Regions from separate parts of the Homo sapiens genome. Here all the other regions are reported to be linked to region 3. Evidence: microRNA targets listed by miRTarBase, many of them from high-throughput screens and not tested one by one. Region 3 holds a microRNA gene; each other region holds the end of a gene's coding sequence.

The links. The annotated mature microRNA hsa-miR-575 reads GAGCCAGUUGGACAGGAGC and lies in region 3 at 3,181-3,199, opposite strand. An mRNA with a match to its seed (bases 2 to 7 or 8) in the 3' UTR can be bound and repressed. Matches are read on the target gene's strand: a 7mer-m8 pairs with bases 2 to 8, a 7mer-A1 pairs with bases 2 to 7 and ends in A, and an 8mer does both.
Region 1: the mRNA of DBN1 is a reported target of hsa-miR-575. Seed matches in the 3' UTR shown: 7mer-m8 at 723-729.
Region 2: miRTarBase lists LSP1 as a target of hsa-miR-575. Seed matches in the 3' UTR shown: 7mer-A1 at 2,144-2,150.
Region 4: miRTarBase lists KCNIP2 as a target of hsa-miR-575. Seed matches in the 3' UTR shown: 7mer-m8 at 5,597-5,603.

The regions. Positions count from the first base shown.
Region 1 is chr5:177,450,939-177,457,938 of GRCh38, reverse strand. DBN1 (drebrin 1) reads left to right here. Exons shown (of 15, transcript NM_001363541.2): 14 at 182-284; 15 at 436-1,329. The coding sequence ends at 506. It overlaps PRR7 (proline rich 7, synaptic), which reads right to left. Exons shown (of 4, transcript NM_030567.5): 2 at 3,899-3,983; 3 at 2,445-3,110; 4 at 1,653-2,215. The coding sequence starts at 2,871. The coding sequence ends at 1,818. Among named protein-coding and RNA genes, the nearest start is that of PRR7-AS1, 6.5 kb to the right of the region's middle. RefSeq lists enhancers at 72-772, 2,337-2,631, 2,879-3,579 and silencers at 1,325-1,524, 1,895-2,034, 2,125-2,674, 3,184-3,415, 2,865-3,474 and 1 more.
Region 2 is chr11:1,886,777-1,894,003 of GRCh38, reverse strand. LSP1 (lymphocyte specific protein 1) reads right to left here. Exons shown (of 11, transcript NM_002339.3): 8 at 7,138-7,227; 9 at 6,690-6,767; 10 at 6,428-6,530; 11 at 1,741-2,231. The coding sequence ends at 6,441. It overlaps PRR33 (proline rich 33), which reads left to right and starts at 2,109. Exons shown (of 1, transcript NM_001395380.1): 1 at 2,109-5,926. The coding sequence starts at 3,420. The coding sequence ends at 4,859. RefSeq lists a silencer at 6,631-6,797.
Region 3 is chr4:82,750,172-82,757,171 of GRCh38, forward strand. MIR575 (microRNA 575) reads right to left here and starts at 3,259; the gene lies at 3,166-3,259. The region is part of intron 1 of SCD5 (stearoyl-CoA desaturase 5); the gene reads right to left.
Region 4 is chr10:101,821,337-101,828,563 of GRCh38, forward strand. It overlaps KCNIP2 (potassium voltage-gated channel interacting protein 2), which reads right to left. Exons shown (of 10, transcript NM_173191.3): 6 at 7,053-7,123; 7 at 6,815-6,922; 8 at 6,553-6,657; 9 at 6,353-6,415; 10 at 4,638-6,064. The coding sequence ends at 6,017. It overlaps KCNIP2-AS1 (KCNIP2 antisense RNA 1), which reads left to right. Exons shown (of 3, transcript NR_045118.1): 2 at 6,524-6,603; 3 at 6,845-7,227. Among named protein-coding and RNA genes, the nearest start is that of KCNIP2-AS1, 5.9 kb to the left of the region's middle. RefSeq lists enhancers at 3,456-3,750, 6,250-7,227.

The DNA.
Region 1 (7,000 bases), not on the chromosome of region 3:
GGGAAGTCCATCCCACCCTCCCTCCCTGGGCCGGCTCTGCTTTTGTTCCCAAGGCAGGCATCCTTGTTTCCCTGGCAACCACTGATGGAATCATTGGTTGCTGGGGAAACGGGCTCAGGCCTGATAGGTCAGCCCCAGTCCTGCTGGGTGGGGCCAAGTGACCTGATGCTTTCCCCTGCAGGCCAGTGAGGGGTACTTCAGTCAATCACAGGAGGAGGAGTTTGCCCAATCGGAAGAGCTCTGTGCCAAGGCTCCGCCTCCTGTGTTCTACAACAAGCCTCCAGGTAGTACTGGGCTGGATGATGGGGAGGAATTTGGGTGCGGGGGCTGGATTTGAGTGTGGGTAGCCACCCCACCACTACCCACCGCTCACAGAGGCTGGGGACACAAGCGGTCTGCTAGGTCCCTAACTCCTCTCCCTTTCTAACGCCACAGAGATCGACATCACATGCTGGGATGCAGACCCAGTTCCAGAAGAGGAGGAGGGCTTCGAGGGTGGTGATTAGCGGTGGCGCCAGCCCTAGGCTACCCTTGCCAAGGCCGCCCACCTGCATCAGCCTCTGGCCAGACGGCCCGCCGTGCCTGCATTCGCAGCAGCTCCGCCTGGCACCCACTCCGGATTCCGGCCCTGGCTGGGGACTTGGCCGCTTCCCTACCCACAGGGCCTGACTTTTACAGCTTTTCTCTTTTTTTAAAAAGTTGATAGGAGACTTGTACAGTTGACTGGCTTTCCTCTCGTTGGTAGTTGAGACGCTGTTGCAAATTCCACCCCTCCTTCCCTGGTCCAGATTGTAGCTCTTAGTCCTCCCTGCTCAGCTGGCCGGGTTGGAGGCCTCACCCTGCTTGGGGCCTGGCGTGGGGGGAGCTCTGGTGGGAAAATGTCCCCCACCTCTTTTCCTAGTTTTATGTTTCTTGGGAAAATATCACTTTGTATTCTCTGTCCAGGGCTTCAGATATTTTGCACGAATTTTAAAACATGGCAATAAATGGCTCGTGGGCTCTGGCTCCCTGGGACCCCCTCCCCGCCCTTCTTTTGACCCCTTCCTGTCTGGCCCAAAGGAAGTAGCAGGCCCAGCTGGGGCCCCTCGGCTACCCCCCGTCTCCTGCCGGGCAGGTCCCAGGTTGGAGGCCCTAGGCGCGGTTCAGGTCAGGGCTATGGATGGGGCCCAGGGGCTTTGGTGGCCCCTCCCCAACTCCTTCCTCTTTGCTTGGGTTCCTTTTTCACGTTTAGTAACTGTTTTTTTTTTTTTTTTTTTTTTTTTTTTGGAAAGCACAAACTTCTGTAACGGGTCGTGCTCATGTCTGTTAATAAAGAAATCCAGATCCCTTCGGGCTGCCGCCTGCCCTGACCCAGGTTCCCAACTCCTCCCACCTCCGAGGCCGCAGCACCTCCTTGCCACCAGGGGGCGTCCTCACCCTAATTCCAAGGCCCGCCAGGCGGGGGCGGGGTGGGGGGGCGGTGCTAGGGGCTAAGGCTCCCAGGGGAAGCCGCTTGGCACCTACAACCACCGGAGAAGGGTTGGTCTTAGACTTAGTGCTGTACCCTTAGGTTCTGTTGTGGCGGAAACGCACGTTGAGGGTCCTTCCCGCCAAGGCCCCGGCTTGTCTGGTCACACAGAACCCTGGGCGAAAGCAGCCGGTGCACCCTCCGCTTGTACCAAACCAGATCACACACCTTTATTATCCTCAAAATGTAACAAACGGGATAAGAAATCCCTCCCTCCCCCCGCCCCTCCCCGCAGTCCAGGGAAGCATTTAAAAAGCCCCGCAGTCAGGCCAGGAGTCCGCCGGTGGGGCCCGGGGCGCCGGGCGCCCCTCTATACGGCTGTAGTCCTCCCGAACAAGGGGATGGAGACCGGCAGACGCCAAGCTCCGTGCTCCAGGGGCTCGCGGCTGCTGAGCTCTGAGTCGGTCCAGCTGGGGAAGACCCGGCGGCCACGGTCGGCCTGCAGGCAGAGGGCTGGGCAGGGCGGCGCGGGCCGAGGGGCGCTGGGCAGGTGCAGCGCCGAGGTGTAGCCCCGGTCCAGGAAGAGCGGCTTGTAGCTGGGAGGCGGCTGCTCCTGCTTCTCCGCGCTGTCGCGGCGACTCAGGAAGGGCGTGACGATCTTGCGGTAGAGGCCGCGCGTGTCCGTGAGCACCTCGCTATAGGGCGGCGGCGGCTCTGCCATCAGCACCGCCTCTTCGTAACACGGTGGTTTGGACATGTCCGATTCCGCTGCGGAGTGGGAGGCGGTCGGAGGAGGTGAGGCCGCCGGTTCCCAGCCTCTCGCAGAGGCCCCGGCCAGGGGCCGCCCGCGCCCCAGCCCTAGCCCGAACCCGAGCCCGCCGCCGCCCGTGTTCTCCCGGAGGCTGCGGATGGAAGCCCTGAGGGTAAGCAGCGAGCCCTCCAACGCCCGCCCACTTCCGGCGGCCCGGATCGCCCCCTGGCGGAGGTCGGTACTCACCTTGGCGCGGGTAGCTCCAGGGCCGTGGCGGCACCGACAGGTGCGTAGGCGGCGGGTGCGGGAGCGCGTGGTGGTGCGGGTGTGGGTGCGCGTGCGCGTGCGGCTGCGCGGGCCCGTGGTGCAGCAGCGGGTGCACGTGCACGTGCGGATGCGAGTGCGCGTGAGCCGGCGCCTCCAGGCGGCTACGGTGTGGTGGTGGCTGCGGCGGCGCCAGGCCCGGGGGGCTCCCGGCCAGACTGCCCTCGAGTTCGAGGGGCTCCAGCTCTAGGGCGCGCAGGTTCTGCTCGCGCAGTCGCTCCTCCTGGCGCCGTTTGAGGCGGCGGCGCAGGAAGCTGCAGAAGCAGCAGAGCAGGACGATGAGACCCCAGATGAGCCAGAAGCCGGCGAAGCACGTGAGGAACGTGTAGGTGCCCTGGGACATCACCATGGCGGCGGCACGGGCGGCGGGTCCTCAGACGCTTCACTGGACACTGGGCTCCGCTGCGTGGCCCCGGGCCCGCGCCACACTCTCAGGTGCCGCCAGCGTCACTCGGGGACCCGCGGCCGGGGGCTGCCCGTGGCAGGTCTCAAGTCGTGCGCGCGCCGGCGGGGGACAGCAGCGGCGCCCGCTCCTTCCCATGGCGCCGGCGGGCGCGCGGGCGTGCCTCACCCGGGGCCGCGCGGGACCTGTAGGGCAGACACGGGGCGCAGTGAAGGCGCGCCGCGGCCCCCAACGACTTCCCGGCCCCCGCCCGCGCCCTGCGCAGTCCGGGGAAAGCCTCCTCCGTGGGAACCTCGCGCTCCCCGGGGGCCCGGTGACGTCACCGAGGAGGGTGACGTCACGCCTCGAGGTTTCCCCGGTAGGGTTTCCCCGATCTGAGCCCCGGCCGCCGCCGCGGAGCCCGGGCGCCGAGGGGAGCCGAGGCGGGCCAGCAGGGGGCGCGCGAAGGACGGACTCCAGCTCTGAGTCCGAACGAGAGATTCGCCATCCGCAGTCCCGGGGCCAAAGGGTTTCAGGAGCCTGTGCGCACCAGGTCCCTGAAGAGGCGTCTCGGCGCCGTTGCTGTGCGGCGGGGAAAGGGTGGTACATCTCCTAGAGCCCCACAGACAGCCACCCGACGCCCTGTACAGACGCCTGGCAGCCCCTGGCTGCCCAAAGCCCGGAACAACTGGCTCCGCACCGCGCCCTCCGGGTCTCCCGCCGCTCCCGTAGGGGGGCTCAGGCGGGTGGCTCCGACTGGTAATGCGTGCCACCGGCCCTGCCTTTGTCTGAGCCTAGCGCGCCGCGCCGGGCGTGGGCCACACTCTCTTCCTTTCCTCCAGGCGCCCTGCCTGCTCCAACTCCGCTTCCCCGCCTCCTGCCCTTGCACAGCCCCACTTGGCTCTGCCTCTGTCTTCAGGCCGCCGTCTCCCTTTCCCTCTCGCGGAGGGGAGGAAAACTAGATGAGGGTTGGAAGCTAGTCTTTCGTACCCACCTGGTCCTGCACTCACTCCAGATGGGCATCTCTAGTTCCGCTTCCTCCTCTCCACAGCTGCGGGTGAGAGGGGGAACCTTGCACCCTAAGAGGGAGGTAGGAGGGAGCCCTGACTCTGAGAGTGAAGGGTGGCAGGTGACTGCTCACCGCCCCCACAGAACAGAACTGAGCCTTTCCTGAATGCCTTATACACACAGGTTTGAACGAAAGCCTTTGGGGTAACTGGAATGATTCCTATTTTACAGACGAGGAGTTGGGGGAACAACTGGCTGTGTAGATGGCAGGTGGTAGCACCATAATTTGAACCCAGGCCTGGCCACAAAACTCTAGCCTGAGTGGGGTGGGGGGTAGCGCTGCCTGGGCTACTTTGTGGGCCTCTTCCAGGAGCCCCACGGACCCTACCCTCCGCGTGCCCGAGGCACACACACACTGCTTCGAGAGCCACAGGGAGCCTGAGCCCCAGGCTGGGGGGAAGCCAGGCCATGGCCACCCCACACTTCTCCCCAGATGGCTCCTGTCTGACTCCATGGCTGCCTTCAGCCACGTGCCACTTGGTGCCCTTGCCAGTCCCCTTCTCCTGGGCCTGCGTTCCAGAACAGACAATGGCAGGAACCATAGCTCTGCCCGCCCCCTCGACAACCCTGCCATGAGGCTGCCATGGTGACGCAGCCCAGATAAAAACACGATGCTGCCAGTCACTGGGAGTTAATTACATCTGTTATTCTTTTCCTGAGCCATCAGGAATGCTCTGAGGAAACTGGCACTAACTAGAGGTCCCCCGGTCTGCCAGGCAGGAACAGCTCTGGGTCAGAAAAGGTAACTCTGGGGCTGGAGGTGATGGGGTTTAGCTGAATTAGAAATATCTTTCAAGGACCACGCAGAATCCTCTCTTCAACACCACCTTGTCTGTGGTGGTTGTGCCCATTTGATAGACAGGGAGATAGGCTCAGAGAGGGGAATGACTTGCCCCAGGTCACACAGCTCAGAAGGGGAGGAGCTAGGATTTAGCCTGAGTCTGAATCCAAACTCTGTGCCAGATGTAAGTGGCAGCCATGGGGGCACTGGGCAGACAAGCCAGCTAGCAGCCAAAATGCATTCCCATCCCTTCCCACCAGGGCCCTGGCATGCCTGATCACCAGCCCGACTCTGCTGTGGAATAGCAGTGTGAGAAAGAGCTACAGGATGAAGGGGAGATGTAATGGCAGCGCCAGGTTAGCAAGAGACAAAAGAGAGGGCCCTCTGTGCCCTGAGGGCGCCCAGCTCAGCAGGTGGGGCATTAGGCCATACAGGGCAGGCCACGCCCAGGACCTGCTGGGTGCCGTCATAGCTGCATTTTATAAACTAGGCAACTTTGGGCCAAAGAGAGGAAGGCTCTTGCTTAAGGTCACATAACTAGCCCCCTGGCCCCAACCTGGCTCCACCCCCAGGTGGAGTGGGTAGGGATTTGACACTGAACGCTGTCTTCTCGGCAGTGCCACAGCAGGCCCACGGGACTGGAATCCTGTCTGAAGCCTCCCTCCCAGGTGCTCAGTAGACTCTCATCTAACCGACCATAGGTGCTCAATACATAAACATCAGAGGTTCATTCAGACCTTTCAAAATGCTCTACCTGACCAGGCCAGACTTGGCAAAGCCTCCCGAAAAAACCATGCCCCCTTACTGCTCCTTTACTATGTGAGCTCTTGCCCTTGTCTGGGAGCCTTTCAGACTCAGAGCCTGCCTGCAGCCTGCTGCTCCCAGCCACTCCCTCCACTGCCCACACTGCTCCAGACTGGTAGTAGCCAATACGTGCCTCCTCCTACCTACCCAACACATTCAGGTGCTCGGAGCGATGCCCTGCAGATGGACCGAAGTCTGCCATTTGATTACTCACGTTCTGTTTCCTGTTTCTCTTTTCTTACTTTCTTGAAGGTTATTTGAACATGTTTTAGGGTTGCATCTTGATTTATCTGTAGTGCTTTTGAACCATATCGCTCTGCATGTTTTCTCGGGCCACACACTCACTGGGAGCACGGCAGGGGGATGAAAGCGAGACCCTTGGTGAGTTTCTTAACCTCCAAGTTGCCTCTGTTTCCTCATCGGTGAAGATGAAGCTAATCATGCAAAGGGTGTGGAGGTACCAACAGACATTAGCTCTGATGATGGTGGTTTCTGAGCTGAGGATGCAGACATGTGTGTGTCCCCAGGGTGCTCCCTGCCTGAGGGTGGGCTCCACACTCACTCTTCGAAGCAGGCTACAGGGTGCTCCCTGCCTGAGGGCTGGGCACCACAGTCACTCTCCGAAGCAGGCTACAGGGTGCTCCCTGCCTGAGGGCTGGGCACCACAGTCACTCTCCGAAGCAGGCTACAGGGTGCTCCCTGCCTGAGGGTGGGCTCCACACTCACTCTCCGAAGCAGGCTACAGGGTGCTCCCTGCCTGAGGGTGGGCTCCACACTCACTCTCCGAAGCAGGCTACAGGGTGCTCCCTGCCTGAGGGTGGGCTCCACACTCACTCTCCGAAGCAGGCTACAGGGTGCTCCCTGCCTGAGGGTGGGTTCCACACTCACTCTCCGAAGCAGGCTACAGGGTGCTCCCTGCCTGAGGGTGGGCTCCACACTCACTCTCCGAAGCAGGCTACAGGGTGCTCCCTGCCTGAGGGTGGGCTCCACACTCACTCTCCGAAGCAGGCTACAGGGTGCTCCCTGCCTGAGGGTGGGCTCCACACTCACTCTCCGAAGCAGGCTGGCATTCTTGTTAGTTGGCAGATGAGAACACTTGGCTCAAGGAGCTTAAATGACACCCAAGGGCACACAGAGCCAGGGCCTGGCTGCATTGCTGTGGGCACCTCCCACACTGCCCTGTGCACACTTCAGCCTTACAGGCCAAAGCACCAAAGATCTGCTACTGGGTCCTTTATCTCAGCAAAGAGCCTACCATTCCTTCCGTCCGCCGCATCCTCTGCAGGGTGGCATTTGTCCACTTCCTTTGGTCCTCCTGCCACTGCCTTGGCCAGGCCAGCATCGTCTCTCCCCTGGCCCCCATCACCATGCTTGCCACTGTGCTGTGCCCCTGCCCAGCCTAGTCACTCCTCACAACACTACGCTGCCTCAGGAGCCAATCTA
Region 2 (7,227 bases), not on the chromosome of region 3:
CCTCCATCCATCCTTCCCGCTCTCTGTCCATCCATTCATCTATCCCTTCACCCATCCATCCACCCACCCATCTACCCATCCACTCATCCATCTCTCCATTCATCCATCCACCTATCCATTCACTCACTCACCTATCTATCTATCCGTCCTTTCATCCATCCTTTCATCTACCCATCCACACATCCATCCCTCCATTCATCCATCCACCTATCCATCCATCCACCTGTCCATCCACTCTCATCCATCCCTTCATCCATCCATCCATCTACCCATCCATGCATCCATCCCTTCATTCATCAATCCCTCCATTATCTATCTATCCATCCATCCAACCACCTACCCATCCCTTCATTTATCGCTCCTTCCATCCATCCATCCACCCACCCACCTACCCATTCACTCACTCATCCCTCCCTCCATCCCCCCTCTCTCCCTCTGTCCATTCATCCAGCCATCCCTTCATCCATCCATCCACTCATCTACCTATCCACTCATGCATCCCTCCTTTCATCCATCCACCTATCCATTCACTAACCCATCCATCCATCCATCCAGCCAGCCAGCCAGCCAGCCAGCCATCCTCCCACCCACCCATCCATTCACCCACCTATTCACCCACTCATCCATCCATTAGTCCATCCATCCACCCACCTGCTTACCCATTCACTCATCCATACATCCCTCTATCCATTCATCCATCCCCTATTCATCCACTCACCCATCCCTCCACTCACCCACCCAACCATTCATCCACTCACCCACCTACCCATCCATTCACCTGCTTATCCGTCCACTCATCCATCCATCTATCAATCCATCCATCCACCCACCCACCCACTTACTCATTCACTCATCCATATGTCCGTCTATCCATTCATCCATCCCCTATTCATCCACTCACCCATCCCTCCACTCACCCACCCAACCATTCATCCACTCACCCACCTACCCATCCATTCACCTGCTTATCCGTCCACTCATCCATCCATCAATCCATCCATCCACCCACCCACCCACTTACTCATTCACTCATCCACATATCCCTCTATCCATTCATCCATCCCCTATTCATCCACTCACCCATCCCTCCACTCGCTCATCCAGCCATTCATCCACTCACCCACCTACCCATCCATTCACCCACCTATCTGTCCACTCATCCATCCATTCATCTGATCATCTATCCATTCGTCCACCCACCTACCCATCCATCCATCCACCCACTTGCCCACCCAGCCATTCATCCACTCGCCCACCTACCCATCCATTCACCCACCTATCCATCCACTCATCCATCCATTAATCTATTCATCTATCCATTCGTCCACCCACCTACCCATCCATCCATCCACCCACCCATCCACCCATTTGTCTGTTTTCCAAACCTTCACTGAGCACCTCCTGTGTGGTGTTGGGGGAGGCCCCGAGGTGGATCTTGCCCTCAGTGGGTGCGAAGTCAAGGCACAGAAGTTTATATTGGGCTAGTCCTGGTTGGGGTAGGGATATCACAGACATTCTGGAAAAGGAAGCCCGGACCCCACCCATTGTGTGTGCTCTGACTTAGGCCACCAGAGAGCTTATGTCCTGGCGTCTTATACTGCAAAGGCCATGAGACAGGTCAGACTGCCTGAACCCAGAGGCCACAGCATGCTGTGCAGTGTGGGAATGGGCTGGCCACTGGCCCAACATTTCCATCCTGGCCAGCCCTGCCCCCTTAGTGAGTACAAGACAGCCAGCACATGAGAATACACAGGGAGCTTTATTATACAAAATGGCGGGGTGGGGGGCGGCAAGCAGCGGGGGACGCAGCATCAAGCATCCTGCATGGCCGTTATCAGCCCTTGACCTGCAGTTTCTCCTTGGATCTGGGGGGGTGACCCACCCTCTCTGCACAGGCTGTGCCTCAACCTCCTAACTTCCTAGAAGGCACTTGGCCTCTCCAGGGGTAAGTCCCTTTGGCCAATGATCAGGAGTTTCTTTCCTCCCCCAAGTAACAAGAAGCGGAGCTGGGTGGGGAGGGCGGGGGCGGTGGTCAGAGAGTGGAAGGGCAGAGAGGCTAAAGGGTCCAGGAGCAAAAGGAGGTGGCAGCGGATGGCATCAAAGAGGCGAGGGTAGGTCATGCTGGCAACAGGAAGCAACTTCTTAGCCAGGGCCGGGGGGCGGGTGTCTGGCTGGAATCTCCCCTGGGTACATGGAGGGTGCCAGCCGGCTGGACCTGCAGACCCAGGAAGCTGGAACATAGGCATGGGGTGCAGGGGGCATTAGGCTAGGGTCCAGGGAGGGGCCACAGACCTGCCTCCTGCAAGCCCACAGAGCCTGCTCCCCGAGCCTCTCTCTGCTGGCCTCCCTGCCCTGCCCACACCCCCACTCCACCACAGGAGAAGACGTCCTGCCTCAGAGGCCTGCTTCCCAGTGCGAGCACTTGTGCCCTGGGTCAGGACCTCTGGCTGGAGACCTGACTCCTGGTGGAGGGAAGGCGGCCTGCCTGCCAAGCAGCCTGCCCACCCTGGGAGCTAGAACTGGGGTTCTCGTGGTTCCTGCAGTCCCGTCATCCAGAGGAGGCCGGTAGCTGAGAGCAGTCCTAAGCAGGCTCCTTCCGCCCCCACCCCTCCAGCAGCTCTGTTCTTGCCTTGGCAGAGCCAGCCCCCACCAGCGGCAGCCCCCAGGACTCCCTCCTTCCCCAAACCAGAGAGCCTCTGGCTCGGACAGATGCCATTTGTCAATGTCCTTGCAAACACGTGGTGCCCAGAAACCAGGGTGGGCGGCTTGGCCGGGCCACCCCAGACAGGAGGTCTGCGGGAATATCCCATTTAGCATAGCTCAGCGAAAACTGCTCCCACCTTCCGGCCAATCTACCTCTGATGATGCAGCCTCGGCTTTCCCAAGCCTCTTGGCCGCCACCCCTCACCGCTGGCTCGCAGCGGACGCGCCTGTGGTTGAGCCGGCGACAACAGGGCGCCCCTCACGTGTCTGGGGGCAGCCGCTCTTCCAGCCCTGGGCTTGGCCAGCAGCTGGCCAGGGGCATGCCTGTCACTTGGGGCTCACCCGCGTCTCCGTCTCCCACCCCAGCCCACACGGTGTTGCGGCCTGACCCAGGCTGTGTACTTGGGGCCTGCTTTGTGCTGGGGTGGCATGGAGGACAGAGCCCTGGAGGCAGGTTCTAGCCCCATCCCTGGAGGGACTCGGCCTCTGTGGCCTCATTTCTACACTAGGGTGATGGTGGGGCCACCCCAAAGTCCCCAAGGCACAGTCGAGCTCAGCATGTCCCTGGCAGGTTCTGGGTGCTCAGGAAGCAGAATACTCAGGCCTCCACACCCCTGGCCCCAGGTCCTCCTTGGACCACAGGAGACACAGGCCTCCCACCTCAGGAGGGAGGAGGGCTGGCCTGACCACTGTCCCTCCCACCCTAGGACACAGTCATGCTCATATCGGCTGCGTCGATGGCACCCGAGGTGTGCGGCCCAAGCCTCCAGGGAACCCCTGGACCCCCACCGCCCCTGCTGCCCAAGCCAGGGAAGGACAACTTGCGTTTGCAGAAGCTCCTGAGGAAGGCAGCCCGGAAGAAGATGATGGGAGGCACACACCTCGCTCCACCCAGGGCCTTCCGCACCTCCCTGTCCCCCGTGAGTGAGGCCAGCCATGACCAGGAGGTCACAGCCCCGCACGCTGCTGAGGGCCCGCACCCCGCCGAAGCCCCACGCCTTCCTGAAGCCCCACGCCCCGCCGAGGCTCCCCGCATGGTGGCTGCCCTACCCCGCTCCCCGCACACCCCCATCATCCACCACGTGGCATCACCCCTGCAGAAGTCCACGTTCTCCATCGGCCTCACCCAGCGCAGGATTCTAGCTGCTCAATTCAGGGCCATGGGGCCCCAGGTTGTAGCCTCGGCCCCAGAACCTACCCGGCCCCCCAGTGGCTTCGTCCCTGTCTCTGGGGGTGGGGGCACCCACGTCACCCAGGTGCACATCCAGCTGGCACCATCCCCACACAATGGGACCCCTGAGCCTCCCAGGACAGCCCCAGAAGTGGGATCCAACAGCCAGGATGGAGATGCCACCCCAAGTCCCCCCAGGGCCCAGCCCCTGGTCCCAGTGGCTCACATCCGCCCACTGCCCACCACAGTCCAGGCTGCCAGTCCCTTGCCTGAGGAGCCCCCTGTACCACGGCCGCCACCCGGCTTCCAGGCCTCAGTGCCCAGAGAGGCTAGTGCCAGGGTTGTGGTGCCCATAGCCCCGACCTGCCGCTCGCTGGAGTCCTCACCGCACAGCCTGGTCCCCATGGGCCCTGGCAGAGAGCACCTGGAGGAGCCCCCGATGGCTGGCCCCGCCGCTGAGGCCGAGCGAGTGTCCAGCCCTGCCTGGGCCTCATCCCCTACCCCACCATCAGGCCCTCACCCATGCCCTGTCCCCAAAGTTGCACCCAAGCCCCGGCTCAGTGGCTGGACGTGGCTCAAGAAGCAGCTGCTGGAGGAGGCCCCAGAGCCTCCGTGCCCAGAGCCGCGGCAGAGCCTGGAGCCAGAGGTGCCCACCCCCACAGAGCAGGAGGTGCCTGCCCCCACAGAGCAGGAGGTGCCCGCCCTCACCGCACCCCGGGCCCCCGCCTCCCGGACCTCCAGGATGTGGGATGCCGTGCTGTACCGCATGTCAGTGGCGGAGGCCCAAGGGCGCCTGGCAGGGCCCAGCGGTGGGGAGCACACCCCAGCCAGCCTCACCCGCCTGCCCTTCCTGTACCGGCCTCGCTTCAACGCCCGGAAGCTGCAGGAGGCCACCCGGCCCCCTCCCACAGTCCGCTCCATCCTGGAGCTGAGCCCCCAGCCCAAGAACTTCAACCGCACAGCGACTGGCTGGAGGCTCCAGTGAAGTGGCCAGAATGGCCCCCAGAGCCCAGGACCATGGGATGGACAGAAGAAGGGGCTGAGGCTCTAGCTGGGGGCCCATAGTTGCTGCATGAAGATGCACCAGGGCCCAAGGGGCATGGGGTGCAGGGCAGCCTGGGAAGGGCACATGGGGTGCTGAGGGAAGTCTGCATGGTTAGGAGGGTGGTCAGGTGGACGGGGCAGAGAGGACGAGCTGGAGCCCCTGGGCTGCAGTGGTGTGAGGGGAACAGAGAAGGGGTCTGCGTCGGGATGTAGGATGGGGGCCTTGGGATGAAAACTTTAGGTAAGATGGCAGAGGACTGCATCTACTGACCTAGCCCAGGCTCCTCAGGGGCCTGGGCCTCTCACTGATCCTCCCTTTTGCTGTCACCTTTTGCTGTCAAAGGTTTGGGGCCAGATCTCTGCTTGCTGAGGCATGGGTGCGGTCAGGCTGGCTTGGCCATCGGCGTCAGGAGCAGTCAGCAGTTTTGCTGCCTGTGCTTCCTGATGGCAGAGCCAGATCCTGGGACTAGGGTGCAGGGGGGAGCCCTCAGCCAGCGTGGGACTTGGCACCAATACAAGTGCTCAGGGGCAGGCAGGGAGGGGCTCATCAGGGGTGGAGGAGGGCCCAGCGTGACCTCTCTCTCGGCCCACCTCTGCTTCCCCTACCTGGGCTGACAGCCTGAGGGGGCAGAACTCGAGGGATTCGCTGGTGGGACAGCGAGGGTCTCAGCACTGGCCATGCCCAGGCTTTGACAGCTGGATGAGGAGGGAGCCCTCAGTCCCAACCCTATGGGAACAGCTTGGCCAAGCGGGACAGAGAAGGGGCTGTGGCCCTGGTGGGGAGAGTGGAGGGGCCTACTCAGCAGTCAGCCAGGCTCTGGTGGGGGTGGCCAACCACAGGAGAGGGACACAGAGGTACCAGAAAAAGCCTCTGCCACAGCTGCTTGAGAGTCAGGGTTTGGCAGGGGAAGATGGTAGGAGGACAGCTGCCCCACCCTGTGGTGTGATGGGTGCTGGAAATGGAGCCTGGGGCCCAGGTCACTAATAAATGTGTGTCTCACCATGGCAGGAGTGGCACTGCTCTGTCTGCAGCATGGGATGGGGAGGGCATCAGGACCTCTGAATCGCTCTCGGCTGGGACAGGGAGTAGGACCTAAGTTCCTGCCCCTCTATGGACCCTCAGCATACAGATGGTCAGGGAACCTGGGCTCCATGCCACCTGCTTCCTTCAATGCTAGCCCTGTGGTGGCCAGGCTGCCCCTCACTTCCCTCACGAGCCCTGCTGTGGCTTTTGGGGAGTCCCAGATGGGAGCCTTGAGCTTCCCTAGTGGAGCAGTGGCTGAGCCGGGCTGACTCTAGTGAAATGAGCAGAGAGTTTGAATCTGGTATCAGGTGAGAGAGGCAGCATCTGCACAGGACTGGGAGACTGAGCTGGTCTGGGTTCTGGCCAACTCGGAGTCCACCCTTGTAGCCTGCAACAGGGCTCCAGGCAGCCTCCAGGTTGCCAAGTTCCCAGCACAGTGCACGTGTGTGCACCTCATCCCCTTCTGTGAGTTGCCAGGGACTCACCGAGATGGGACGCCTAGGGAGCCGGGCCCCCTTCCACAAGCACCTTCTCATACTTCCCATGCCCGGTGGCCACAAACTTATACCTCTTCCCAGATGGGGTGCTCTGTTGGGAAAGGAGACCAAGAGTGAAGGTGAGAGCAGCAGAAAGGAGATGATGCTGCCTCCGCCTCTGGGAAGCCCTCCCAGATGCACAGAGGACAGTCCCTCTTTGCCCTCCCCTGCTGCACCCACCCTGCCTGCACCAACCACATTTAGGCTCTACCTTAATTGTTGATGAGGTCTTGGAGCCTCCCTTCTGCTCCCAGAGGCTTTTCTTGCTCATGTCTCCAGCCACAATATCCTGGGGGCAGCAGAAGGGTATGTCACAAGGGCAGACCCCTGGATCTTGGGGAGTAGAAGCCCTGGGCCCTTCTCTCCCGCCTTGCCTTACCTGGCCAGGGGGCCTGGGATCTGCCTACCTAAACTTTTTCTGTGTGATCCCAGTGGAAGAGGCAGGGAAAGGAATAAAGGTGCCATCTACCTCCACTCGGACAACACAGCCTTCTACACCAGCAAGGGTGAACCCAACCCTACTGCAATACCTCAGGGTTCTGTATACCCACATTCATCCTGGACAGTCCCATGCTTGTCTTAACAAGGAAACCCGGCCTGCTACTAAACTCCCAGGCGCTGGCTCTGCAGCCCAGCCTTGCCCCTGGAGGGGACCTTACCTTGCAGGACGGAGTCTTGGCCGCAGACTGAGCCTGTACCTCACCCGTCTCCCACCGACTCTTGGTACTGGCCACAGCCATGCTGGGCAG
Region 3 (7,000 bases):
AATATTATCAAGTAAGGTGGCTGAGAGCCAGAGTTGGCATGGGATGGCCATTGGGAGGGCCGGGGCACTTACAGACATGGTCTTCCACATTGATAACTTTGAGATCCATCTCCCCATCCTCTGTGTTTAAAGTAGCTGAGTCGACAGACTGAGAACAAGGAGGAGCTACCTACACCCTGCAGGAGTAACACAGGACCAAACACTATCTCCAAAACATCTGTGTAACAATTACTTCTTCACACATGCAAGAAGTAAAGGGAATAAAAAGACATTCAAAATTAGAAGCAAATAAGCACACTTTGTAAAGATTAAGAATGTAATGGTGACACTGACTGCAAGTGTCCACCCAGGCTAATAAAATTACTTGGAGAAAAAATGTTCTTCAAGATCCAGGGAAGCCATGGAGAGTCTTTTGAGTCCTCGAGAATATGGCTTTACTTTTGCCAGCCACAAGAGAGCTGCTTGTAGCAAAAAAAAAAAAAAGTCATGAAACCAAAAGGCAGTTCATTATGTCTGTTTAAAAGAAAGCACTGTTGGAGAAGAGGAAGCTCTGACGAAACGGTCTGCTAGGTGGACAGGTAGGGAGGACTCAGAAGTCCATTTTACAGGTAGTGAATCTCATGTTTAAGGCCAAAGTGAAGTTGTTTGCCAAGGGCTCTCTAGCACAGAGTTCCTCTAAACCTTGGGCAGCAAATGCCAAAGAACTTACCTTTCCCAGAGTTCCCCAACTAGTGAAACATTCAGCAAGTCAGCCCAGGCTAGGCTGGTTTCTTGGTTATATGCTCTTAGATCCGTGTTCCCTCCTCTCACAGCACTTACATATTAACCTCTGTGACTATGTCTTCCTCCCCAGTCTTCAAATTTCATGAGAACAAGGTCTGTTTTTGTTTTCCATGGTATCTTCAGGGCTTCACAAAGAGCTGTGTAAACCCATCATAAAGCATACAATAAGCCCATAATAAGTATCGGTGGAATAAATAAATGAGCAAAATCAACAAATGTGTGACACAGAACAGGAGTTTTTCATTTAACTTGTATTTTAGAGACAGAGTCTCACTCTGTCGCTCAGGCTGGAGTGCAGTGGCGTGATCATAGCTCACTGCAGCCTCTAACTCCTGGCCTCAAGCAATCCTCCCACATCAGCCTCCTTAGTAGCTAGGACTACAGGCATGCACCACCATACCCGGCTAAGAGAAGAGGAGTTTGAGGACTAACTACTTGCATTCGACATTCATGGGGACATTTACATTGGGCCTGCATATTGATATTGCTTAAAATATGTTCTTTATGTTTCACTAAATCTTTAAATCTCTTAGGACTGAGAAAAGCCAAATCCTATGTACATCAGTCAGGGAGGTAAGGTCCCTATATATGCTGTTTTAAAGTTATAAATGTCTGTTTCAGAGCACAAGGATTAATAACTTTAAAATCTTTTGAATCTTTTACTTTTATTTAGTTAGTTAGTTATTTTTTTGAGACGGAGTCTTGTTCTGTCACCAGGCTGGAGTGCACTGGTGCAATCTCCGCGCACTGCAACCTTTGACTCCCTGGTTCAAGCAATTCTCCTGCCTCAGCCTACCGAGTAGCTGGGATTACAGGCACGCGCCACTACGCCAAGCTGATTTTTGTATTTTTAGAAGAGATGGGGTTTCACCATGTTGGCCAGGCTGGTCTTGATCTCCTGACCTTGTGATCTGCCAGTTTCCGCCTCCCAAAGTGCTGGGATTACAGGCGTGAGCCACCACGCCCAGCCTCTTTTCTCTAGATTGGAAAATATCTTTGTTAGAAAAACATTCCTCTCCTTTAGACTACAAATTGGAAGAATTTCTAAAAATAGAACAGTGACAAAACCCTGGATTGTGGATTTTAGCAAGAAATACTGCCCTGTTAAAGACCTGCTTTAAAGCAAAAGAAATCCCCATAAGTCTGTGGGCAGGAGAATCACCATCACAAGGCCTGAAGTATTTAACTTTAGTTAAATATAATTTTAAACCAGGAAAATCTGCTCATGTATGGGAATTTGTAGTTCTATAAGGATTAGGGAAAACAGAAGGCAGAATACAAGCAATATCTCTCAAGGTTGACCTTGAATTTTAAAAAATTATATATATATATATATATGCAAAATCAGGCAAGATCTTGACACTCCAAAATGGTGTCTGTGGCTCTTAGTGAGGTGGAAGCACAGGGACGTGGGAATAGGTGGGAAGAAGAGAGTCTTTTAAAACCAGCCAGCTGAAATGTTCTTGTCAATAAAGGCATCATTTTACTTCTTCTACTAGGTTAGGATGATTTGAAGGCCTGCATAAACCAAAAGCTGTCACTATAATTCAAGGATAATTGGAACAAATGGCTGCTTAGCACCAGAAAGAGATGGGGCTGAGGAGATGGAATCTTCCAGCCTTTGGGTTGTTCCAGGGAGCATGATCTTCACCTTAAATCCCAGCTGAACAATATCTGTCCCTTTTCCTGTCCCCTCACCAAAACTGGACCTGGAGAAGCCTATGTATTTGTTTGCATGGAATCCTCGCCCTGTGAGCACACACACATCCACTCAGTTCTTTCACGCTTCTCTCTCTTCCCCATTCTTCACACACACAGCTACATCTGTTTCCCTTTTTCCCCCTAAATAAACTTACTCCAGTGTTGAAAATGGATACAAATTGAATCCTACCCACCAAATACTGCATCACATTTTCCCAAAAATGACATGACTTTACCCCAGTGATAAAAGGGAGGTCCTCTTTGCTACCATTAAAATATATCTTTTACTTAATTCCCTGCCCTCTCCTCACCAAGAAAACTCAGTAAGGAACTGCAGGGACCTTAAAGACCATCCAGACTTTGGCTGTGCAGAGTGTGTTCTGGGGACCCACACCATCAGTTTGCCCAGGAGCACATGGGAAGAGAAGAATCCCCAGCCCCACTGAAAACCACAGGACTGGAGTCTGCATTTTAGCAAGATCCTATGTGATTCCTGTGCACATTCCAGTTTGAGAGACATGTGTCTAGGGAGCATGTCTCACCTACTTCATGTGAGAGTTACCTGGGGAGCTTTTACAGCCACCCAAGCCTCACCTGAGACCAAATTAATCCACATTCTCTAGATGGCTATGTGTGTTAAAAGCTCCCTGGGGTGGGGGTGGGGGGTTCTGTGTATGGCCAGAGTTGAGTGGCACTGCTCCTGTCCAACTGGCTCATTGTGCAGACAGCCTGAGTAGCCCAAGGTCATGACATAAGCCAGTGGCAGGGCTGAATTTAAAGGCACAAAGCAGTGCGCCCCAGAGTCACGCGGGTGGACTCTGACAGTGATAGTGTCCATTTCCCACATCTGCCAGGAGTGTGGCTCTTTGTGGGCTGAGTCACCTGCGGGGAAGGGTTTCAGGTTAGAATGTTCATAGGGTGTCACCCAAATCACTGTTTTTAAGCCCTTCTCTACTCCCAAAGAAGTCATTTAATTTGGCCTGGAGGATAGCATCAAAAAACTATGTAACCAATGATATTTCTGCTTGACCTGCCAAATGTGTATTAAATGCATCCATATTTGCCTCCCCCCTCAGCCATCTTCCCCTTTTCCCCTGACTCCAGTTTATAGGAAAAGCAGCCAGCACATACCCCCCTGACAGAAGTCTATGAAAATCCAACTGAGAGGGATTAAAAGGCAGACAGGGCGTATTCCATTTCCTTGAGGCCCTGGGAAAATGTCACATCCGAGGCTGAGCCAGTCCTGATGAGAAAGCCTCGTTGCTGCCAGCTGGGAGGGTTCAAGGTTTGCCAAGCACTGAAGACACTGTTTATGAAAAGCTTTAAATGTCAAGTACCCTGGCTCCTTAGGGTCCTCCCACAAGATAACGCAGTCTCTTGTCAAGCACAGACTCGCCCGAAAAATGAGACCTGAGAAAGGGGCAAGGCTGAGGCATCTGTTCAAAGACAAGCTTCTCAGAGGCCCTGGCTTCTTATGTGGAGGAAAACTTATCTCCCCGTTTTGCAGGAGTTAAGAAGGGCAAAAGAGAATGACAGTGCAGGGAGAGAAAGCGGGAAATCAGAAGAGAAAGGAGAAGGGAGAGAAGAAAGTGAGAGAATGCAGGAAGAGAGAAATGTGCAGATACTAAAAATAAATTCAAAGGCCCTGCTTTTCAACCTCCTCAGTTTTCATATCACAGAAAAGCAGCTAAATCTTCTGAGAAAGCTCAAATGCAAGGACTAAGAATGGGAAAGCAGAGAGAGGGAGGAGAAGTCCTTTCATCAAAATACTTAGGAATCTCAGTGCGTGGTCACTTGGCTGCCACAGGAGGGGTCTGGGTGGTCCTAAGAGGGAGAGGGACTCCTTCCAGGCTCCCCCCAGGACCCACCCTCCCCTCACCAGCAGCCCACCCTCCTAACCCGACAGGGAGGAAACCTGCTCAGTGCTGCTATTTACAATTTCCATTCAGGCAATCTTCACATTTTGGAATGGCATTTGCCAAGGGAGACGATCTCAGCTCCTCTTCTATTTTCAGGTTCCCTCTTGCATAGCGGATGGCATCAGTACTAAGCTCCAAGAAGCAATTTAGAAGAGTGGTTGCTGGAAAGTGGGGGAACCCATGCCAATCTACAGACCTGCAGAGCCTGGGGATGAAGCTTTTATTTTTAACACTGGGATCTGTGAGGCTGACCTATATTTCACTTCTTATATCGGCAGAAGTGACAAGCCTCGAAGGCCAGGGCACAGAGCTGAGCCTCAGGAGTCTGAGGCTTTGAACACTTCACTCAGAGGAACAGAAGCAACAAGACACCAAGCCCACCATGGACAGAGACAGCCGCTAAAACAGAAGGTGCCAAAGTGCCTAGGCTAAGGTTGCAGGGTGCACTCAGTAGACCAGATGGGAAGAACTTGATGTCAGTTTTACCTTCAGAACTTGGAAAGTCTATAGCCAGACCAAACTATGCAGCTAACAAGAAGATGGGGGGTGAGGATGGGGGTGGAGGTGGGCACAAATTGAAGGCCCAGGAAAGGAGAAAATGGGTAGGAGAATGTCGAAAAAATTAGGAGAGATGAAAGAAAGGGGCCAGGCATGGTGGCTCATGCCTGTAATCCCAGCACTTTGGGAGGCTGAGGCAGGCAGATCACCTGAGGCCAGGAGTTTGAGACCAGCCTGGCCAACATGGCAAAACCCAGTGTCTACTAAAAATACAAAAATTAACTAGGCATGGTGGCACACGCCTGTAATTCCAGCTACTTGGGAGGCTGAGGCAGGGGAATCATTTGAACCTGGGAGGCGGAGGTTGCAGTGAGCTGAGATCACACCACTGCACTCCAGCCTGGGCGACAGAGCAAGACTGTCTCAAAAAACAGAAAAGAAAGAAAGAAAGGGGTGGTGTAGATGTGGGGAGAGGGAATGTTAAATTTGCATATTTCAGTAGTGGAACCTGTCCAACACTTCAGAGTCCCTTGGTCAAACAGGCAGAAAAGAAGGCAGCATTAAACAATGCGCTCAAAAAGGATGGCTTAACACCATCAGATAATGTTTTTCAAAATACGTCTAGTCTCCACTATTATCATATTTCATATTTTATTTCTCCTACTCATTCTCAAAACCAAACCCTCTAAAGCATATTTGTCTGGCCAGCCTTATGATGACAAGTCTTCAAATGCATGATACCATGTTGAATTTAATTTTATGCCTGAAACACTAAAGGCTGGCACGGCTCCATTATCTTTTTGTCAAACCCTCACATTTTAATCTGCCATCCAGTCAGTGGACTGGAAACAGAGAAAAATCACTTCAGATTATGAAAAATTTTGACCCTGCACCACCAGAATTTGTTTAAATCAAATTGTCATCTAAATGGAAAGCAGTATAGTGATTTAGTGTTGGTGTAGAGGCCCTGTGGCTCAGTGACAAGAGGCTCCAGGAGGAAGGGCACAGCCTGAGATGCCTTCCTCCTCTGGGTGTCCACAGGCACATCACACTAAGCAGGTGTAATATGGAAACCAGCATCTCTCTCCACTCCCTTCTAGAATCATCAGTCAATGGCACCATCACCCACTCGGTCACCCAAGTAAAATTCCTGCTGGTGGCAGCAGTGGTGGGGATGGTGGGTCATCGAGACCCCCTCTCCTGCCCTCCTGGACCAGTCAGGACAGGCATGGCACAGTGATGATGAGAGCAGGCGCTGGAGTTAAACTACACGGCTGTGAGTCCCAGTTGGTTACTTGCTAGCCATGTGCCATTCAGCCAAGTCACTTAGCCTCTCTATGCCTCAACTTTCTTATCTATAAAACCTCTTTAGGCTGGGCAAGGTGGCTCACGCCTGTAATCCCAGCACTTTGGGAGGCTGAGGCAGGTGGATCACTTGAGGTCAGGAGTTCAAGACCAGCCTGGCCAACATGGTGAAACCCCATCTCTACTAAAAATACAAAATTAGCCAGGTGTGGTGGTGTGCACCTGTAATCCCAGTTACTCGGGAAGCTGAGGCAGCATTAGCTAAGACTGTTCCTCCCCCACCCCCCTCCCCCCGTCCATGCAATTATCAGGACCTGTCAAGTTCAAAGTCCTCTCCATTCCATGCTCTTTCCTACTTGTAGCCGCCCTCACCATCTCTCACTAGAACCAACACAACATCTCCCTCCTTGGTCTCCTTGTCTGTAGTCTTGCCCCCCTCAAATCCATCCTCCATAGAGCCACCCACACTGCATATCAAGACATGAAACCAAACTGTTGTTGTTGTTGAGAGAGGATCTCCCTCTGTCACCCAGGCTGGAGTGTTGTGGCGCAATCTTGGCTCACCACAGCCTCTGCCTCCTGGGCTCAAGTAATCCTCCCACCTTGACCTCTCAAAGTGCTGGGATTATAGGCGTGAGCCACTACATGTGATCCCACTCCCATTCTCAAAACCCTTCCATGGCACCTCACCTTCCACAGAGGGAAAACCCAAACTTCTTAGTGTGACACATAAGGAGCCTTCCCCACCCTCTCTCCATCCTCGCTTTCAGTCTCTCCTCTCCCATCTCCTTTCC
Region 4 (7,227 bases), not on the chromosome of region 3:
TAATAATGTTGTACTGGACATTCTAACACACACCCTATAGTTTAACAATGTATAGCCAATCAATAGCTTATGTTATTTTAATGTAAACTGTTGGTAAATAACTCAGGAACTGCCTCTTCTTTCCCTATAAAAATCCACTTGTAACTGCTGCTAATCAGAGTGTCTATTTAGGGCAACTTGAATCTATGCTCTTTCGTTGCAATCCTCAAGCTTATAATAAACTCTCTACTTGTATTCATTTTGCCTCAGCTTCTTCCTTATAGGTTGACAGGAGATTTGGGGGCTGTCATTCTGGCTGATGTCCTTAGTCTCATGACATTTTCCTCTTTGCCTTAATCACTGCCAGCAAGTCAGCAGCCACAATTTCTCCTACTTTCCATAGTCCAGTCTCATAGGGAAGGTTTGCCCCATTTCTGTGTCCCTCAAATTTGAAGAGTGGTTCTTGCCACATAACTGCTATACACTTTCTCACCATACCACACCTCTCTCCACCCACCCCCAACACCTACAACAGTAACAGTGCTTAGTAGACCTATGATGAATATTTGCGGAATGAATGAGATAGGGCCCTGCCCTCACAGATTTTACATTCTGTTTGGAGAACCAGACAATAACAAATTCAGTACACACATAGGAACTCACAGTTTGTGGTAAGGGCTATTAAGGGAAGAAACCTGCCAACTGCATCAAGGAGGAGCTACTTCAGATGGACAAATAGGAAGGAGTAATTTAGGTGAGTAGCAATAGTGGCTTGGGCTAGGAAACAGCATCAGAGAGAGAGAGGTGGTGTACCTTTGGTGGTAGAATTGGTGATTGATTAAATGGGGGTGGAGGGAGAATGAAGGAGAGGAAGAAATGGAGACTTCTAAATTTCGACCTGAGCAACTAGATGGATGTTGGTGTCATTTACTGAGATGGGAAAGACTGGAAAGGCATGAATCTAAGCTCCATTTTGAACATGTTAAGTTCAACCATTACAGGTCCACATTAATATATCAAATAGGCAATTGGACTAGGCACGGTGGCTCATTCCTGTAATCTCAGCACTTTGGGAAGCTGAGACTGGAGGAGGATCACTTGAACCCAGGAGTTCAAGAGCAGCCTGGGCAACATAGTGAGACCCCATCTCTACAAAAAATTAAAACATTAGCAGGGTGTGGGTGGCACACACTTGTAGTCCCAGTTACTCTGGAGGCTGAGGTGGGAGGATCGCTGGAGCCCAGGAGTTTGAGACTGCAGTGAGCTGTGATTGTACCACTGCACTCCAGCCTGGGTGACAGGAAAAAAAAAAAAAAAGCGGGGGGCAATTGGATAGACAGGTTTTGGATTTCAGAAGAGAGAGTTCTGGGGATATAAACTTAGGAGCCTCTGCATATCGACGGTGTTTAAAGCCATGGGATTAGGGGTGGTTTGGAAAAGAGGCTTAGGTCTGAGCTGTAGGGCCTAAGATTTAAAATTCAAGTTGAGAAGGATGAGTCTATAAGGGAGGGCTGAGAAGGGGTAGCCAGAAGGGCACGAGGAAAACCAGGAGCGTAGGAAATACTGGAAGGCAAGAAAGGAGAGTATTTTGAGATGGAGCAGCTGACAACACTCAGAACCCAACCAATGGCCAAGATGAAATAATCTGAGGCTGGCGTAGTGGCTCACACCTGTAATCACAGCACTTTGGGAGGCTGAGGCGGGTGGATCGCCTGAGGTCAGGAGTTCGAGACCAGCCTGACCAATATGGCGAAACCCCGTCTCTACTAAAAATATAAAAATTAGCCAGGCATGGCGGCATGTGCTTGTAATCCCAGCTACTCGGAGGCTGAGGCAGGGGAATCGCTTGAACCCGGGAGGCGGAGGTTGTAGTGAGTGGAGATCACTCCACTGCACTCCAGCCTGGGTGACAATCTGAATGCCAACCTACTGTTTTTTTTCTGGATCTCATCTGTAGGCTTGGGCTCTGGGGCACTTCTCAGCTTACTAGCAGTTCTCTGCTTCAATCCCACTAAACTTGAATCTACCTTAGAAAATGGAAACTGGGCAAGGCGTGATGGCTCACACCTGTAATCACAGCACTTTGGGAGGCTGAGGTGGGCACACTGCTTGAGCTCAGGAGTTCGAGACCAGCCTGAGCAATGTGGTGAAACCCTGTCTCTACCAAAAATACAAAAAATTAGCCAGGCGTGGTGGTGTGCACCTGTGGTCCCAGCTACTTGGGAGGCTGGGGTGGGAGGATCACCTGAGCCTGGGAGGTGGAGGCTGCAGTGAGCTGAGATTGTGAGACCCAGTCTCAAAAGAAAAAACAACTGTCTCCATACCTATGTAATTATATACACACATTCACCATGTACTTTCATCCATTATTATTTACTGAATAATGGATGTCCTTACATCCATTATTGTGTGCCAGGCCCCATGGATAAGATGGTGAAGAAAAAAACCCTAGTCCAGGCACTCAGGGAGCCCTCAGGAACTTACAGTGTATAGGAGAAGACAAGTATATAATTACCCAAGTAAGTATATGGTTACAAACTGAGAAGTGCCATAAAGGAAAAGCAGAGGGCATTGTGAGAGCCTGTCATAGTGTCACTTTGCTTGGATTATGCATAACATGCACAGCATCCACTCTTCACATACAATTCTTTGGTTTTTTTTTTCTGAGATGGAGTCTCGCTCTGTCACCCAGGCTGGAGTGCAGTGGCACGATCTCGGCTCACTGCAAGCTCCGCCTCCTGGGTTCACGCCATTCTCCTGCCTCAGCCTCCCGAGTAGCTGGGACTACAGGCGCCTGCCACCATGCCCGGCTAATTTTTTGTATTTTTAGTAGAGACAGGGTTTCACTGTGTTATCCAGGATGGTCTCAATCTCCTGACCTCGTGATCTGCCCACCTCAGCCTCCCAAAGTGCTGGCATTACAGGTGTGAGCCACTGCGCCCGGCCCACATACAACTCTTGACTGTGCCCAAAGGCCACTGTTGACAGACTTGAGGGATTGAGTCTAGCCTCAGTCCTGCTACAAACTCACTGAGTGACCTTGAGCAAGTCTCCCTTCTCTGAGCCTGCTTCTTCTATGAAATGGAGGGTTAGACTGGATCACATGTTCTTTTCTTTTTGAGACAGAGTCTCATTCTGTTGCCCAGGCTGGAGTGCAGTGGTGCCATCTCGGCTCACTGCAACCTCCGCTTCCCAGGTTCAGGCGATTCTCTGGCCTCAGCCTCCCAAGTAGCTGGGATTACACGTATGCGCCACCATGCCCAGCTAATTTTGCATTTTTAATAGAGATGAGGTTTCACTATGTTGGCCAAACTGGTCTTGAACTCCTGACCTCAAGTGATCCACCAACCTCAGCCTCCCAAAGTGCTGGGATTACAGGCGTGAGCCGCTGCACTCACTCTAGATCACAGGTTCTTAACTTAGGACCCATAGATGAGCTTCAGGGATACAAAAATGCATGGGAATTCTTGCCTTTTTCTTTCTTCTGGATAGTGGGCCCACAGCTTTTATCAGATCTTTATGTTGATGACTCAAAGAAACCCAAGGGCCCAAGAAGCAGATGGTTCTTTGATGATATAAGCAGGGAACACAGATGATAAAACAATGGACGCTAAAAGTGAGTTTTTGCTTTTTGGACAACATATCTCTCCCCTTGACTTCATCACGAGGGAGGATAAGGCCTGTTACTCCTCCTATGGATGGTGAAGCTTAGTCACCCATAATGGTGACCCAGAGAAAGGATGAGAGGAACCAACCATTGGTGGGTCCCTCTGCAGGAGCAGAACAAAGAAAGAGTGGGAACACACAGAAAGTCCATGTCATCCTTTGTGCCATCTGCCTCATGGTGACCTGCGCTGGGTCCACTCCATCTCATTCCCCCATCATTCCTGGCTGGGGTATGGACACAAAAAATATTTATCTATACTGGAGGCAAGGTTGGAATGTTGACACAAAGGAACTTTCATTAGAAACTAAAGGGAAGGTCTGTGCATGGTGGCTCACGCCTGTAACCAACACTTTGGGAGGCTTAGGCGGGCAGATCACATGAGGTCAGGAGTTTGAGACCAGCCTGGCCATCATGGCGAAACCCTGTCTCTACTAAAAATACAAAAATTAGCCGGGCATGGCAGTGCACGCCTTTAATCCCAGCTATTCGGGAAGCTGACGCAGGAGAATTGCTTGAACCCAGGAAGCGGAGGCTGCAGTAAAGCCAAGATCACGCCACTGCACTCCAGCCTGGGCGAAAGAGAGACACTCTGTCTCAGAAAAAAAAAAAAAAGAAAGAAACTAAAGGGAGGCCCCTCAAAAGAAAGCACTTTGAGATTAACTAAAAAGTCTGTAAATTAGAAATCTGTGATTCAACTTGTAAGAATGTCAGCTAAAAAACAGCTTGCTTGGCACAGTCTTCGGGACATCAGTGTCCTGTCCTTCCTTCCTTGTCTCCTCTCAGGCTGTGTGGGAGGGAGATTCATGTGGGGGCCTGAGGTTGGGTGGGTTTCCAACCATTCCAGAGCCTGTGTCTCAGTCTCATGCCAAGGTATGGCCAACTATGGAAAAGAAAGCCACTTTCTTGGGGATCTAAAAGGCTGCAGGTGCATTCGTTAGGGGTTGTGTAGTATTTGTAGGTGGGAGGGACAAAAGGCAGAGACGGCAGCCTGTGCATAGCCATTGTGTTTTATTAGATCTGGTATATTTCTTACTTTACAAAATATATAGAAGAGCCCAAAATGCAAAGCAGTCAACAGTCTTCTGATGGGGAAGGGGGCTCTCTGGGGGCTCTCCCCTCAGATTCTGGCCAACTGGGAGGGTAAGCTAAATGGGACGAGCAGGTGTGCTAAGGGGTGGCCGCATGGCTGGGGTGCTGACAATGGGGTTGGAACCTGGGTCCTATGGTCCCTGCCCTCTAGGTGTGCTAAGGGGCATCTCTGGGTAGATTGAGTCAAGCAAGAAGAGACCCTAGGGAACTGAGGAGGTTATCTGGGGTGGGGTGGGGAGAGCCCAGGTTGATTGAAGATTCTAGTGAATGCCCCCACACTGGGTTCAGATGCTATGCCTGCCTCCCTCCTTCCCTCTCCCTTCTAAGGCATCCACTGTGGGGAGTGATAGGCCCCAAGTTCAGGAAGGTCCCAAGTCTATAGAGAACATGGGAAACAAAAACTCAAGTCATAGCCCTCAAAACAGGGACGATAAGCAAGGAGGGTGGGATGAAATTTTGGCAGGCATCAGCCAGGACATCCCCCATCCACATTCCCCCACCACAACCACCACCAACACATGCAGGAAGGAAGGAGAGGAAGCAATGCCAGAGATGAGCCAGATATCTGGCCCCAGGCTCTCCATGGATACCGAGGAGGGTGTGGAAAATTTCTGGGGCATTTCTAAGGAGACAAGGTCTTCTGCAAAGCCTGGAAACTTATATTTTGATGGCCTGTGGTAGCAGACCTGTGGAACTTGGAGCTATAACCTGGTATGCCTGAGCAATCATAATCTGTCCAGGCCCTTCTATTCTCAACCCCAGCCACCTCCTAGGACCTATCCATTGACTCAGGCCCAAGATTTCTCCCTATACATTCTTGTCCCCCTCCCACAGGGCTCTCAATGGCTGGTCTGAGAAGCCAGCCAGTGCCAAGAATGGAGCATTCTCTCTGAGAGGGGAGTCTTAGGGGAAATGTTTATGAGGTCAGGGATGGGGGAAGCACCATAGCAGGAGACATCTGTCTAGTGTGTTTCTAGAGTAGGGGTAGGAGGTGGGGAACCGCTCAATTCCTACAGGAGGGGCACTCTCAACACTGGGTGTCAGGCAGGAAGGGGGTGAGAGCTGGTGGGAGTTGGGAACACCCCCCGAGATGCACTCTGCCCACTCTCTGGCCCCTTCAGCTCCAGAGATCTGGACTACTGAATCCCCAAGCTCTTGGATCCCTCCAGCCCCCAGGGAGGCGTAGGATGAGGATAGACCTGGGAAGAGAAGGGTGAGGTCCGCCTGGACTAGGGTTAGAGCATGGTCCCCCCAGGAAACACTGACCCCCTCTCCTGGGGGCTAGATGACATTGTCAAAGAGCTGCATGGACCTCATGATGTTCTCATCCTGTGGCCATGATGTGAGCGAGGCAGATTGAAGAGAGAGAAAGAGAAGGAGCTTATCAGAGACAGTGAGAGGGACACTGAGTCACAGACGGGGACATTCAAAAGCACAGAGGAAGGAGATGCCCAGAGAGACCTGAGGTAGGGAAGGGGTAAGCCTCCCACAAAGGAATAGGATTGAAATATGGGGGTGAGGTGGGAAGGTGGTATTCTTCCCAAAGAAGCTTTTCCCTGCATTACTAAATCAGGCCTGAGTCCAGGTCAGGGTAATGTAGAGGGCAGGGAGCTGTACCTTTTGACAAGACTCAATGAATTCCTCAATGGTCACCACACCATCCTTGTTTCTGTCCATCTTCTGCAAGAAGGTGGTCAGGCAGGGAGAACAGGAGGGATGGCAAGAGAGAGGCAGACAGAAGTCAGGTGAGTTCCCTGCTGGTTCTTGGCCTTCTTCCCTTCACTCCAGGGCCCTCCAGCCTACCCACTCCCAAGTACCTGGAAGAAGCTCTCCACGTGTTCCCTTGGGGCCTCCTCCCGGAGTGCAGGGTACGTGTACTTGCCCATCATGTCATAGATGGACTTCATGATGTCAAGCATTTCCTGTTAGGCCAAGAGAGAAGAGGATCCTTCCTCAGAGCCTCCAGCCTCCCTTGATCCCTTGCTTGTGGGCATATGTGGGTCATATTTCCCTCCCATCACCCTCTGCACGCCACCCCCATCACCGCCACAGACCCCCAGCCCTTCAGTTGCCCTGCACCTCCTTGGTGATGCAGCCGTCCTTGTTAAGGTCATACAGGTTGAAGGCCCAATTAAGCCTGTCATCTACAGTTCCCCGAAGAATCACGGACAAACCAGCCACAAAGTCCTGGGAAGGAGGCAGGAGGGAGCTGTGTCCTCGGGTACTCTTCACCCAACTCCTTCTCTGGGTTTGGCCTGGAGATCCTGGCCCTGAACTCCAGGAAACAGGCTTCCCTGGCCCACCTCGCCCAGCTCACCTCAAAACTGACCGAGCCATCATGGTTGGTGTCAAAGGCATTGAAGAGAAAAGTGGCATAGGTGCTGGAGTCTGCAGGGTGAGTGTGGAGAAGTTGGCTTCCACACAGGAGAGGACTTCCTCCCTCTAAGGAGCTCCCCATACCCCCCATCACCTTGGCATTCCCAGCTCCTCCA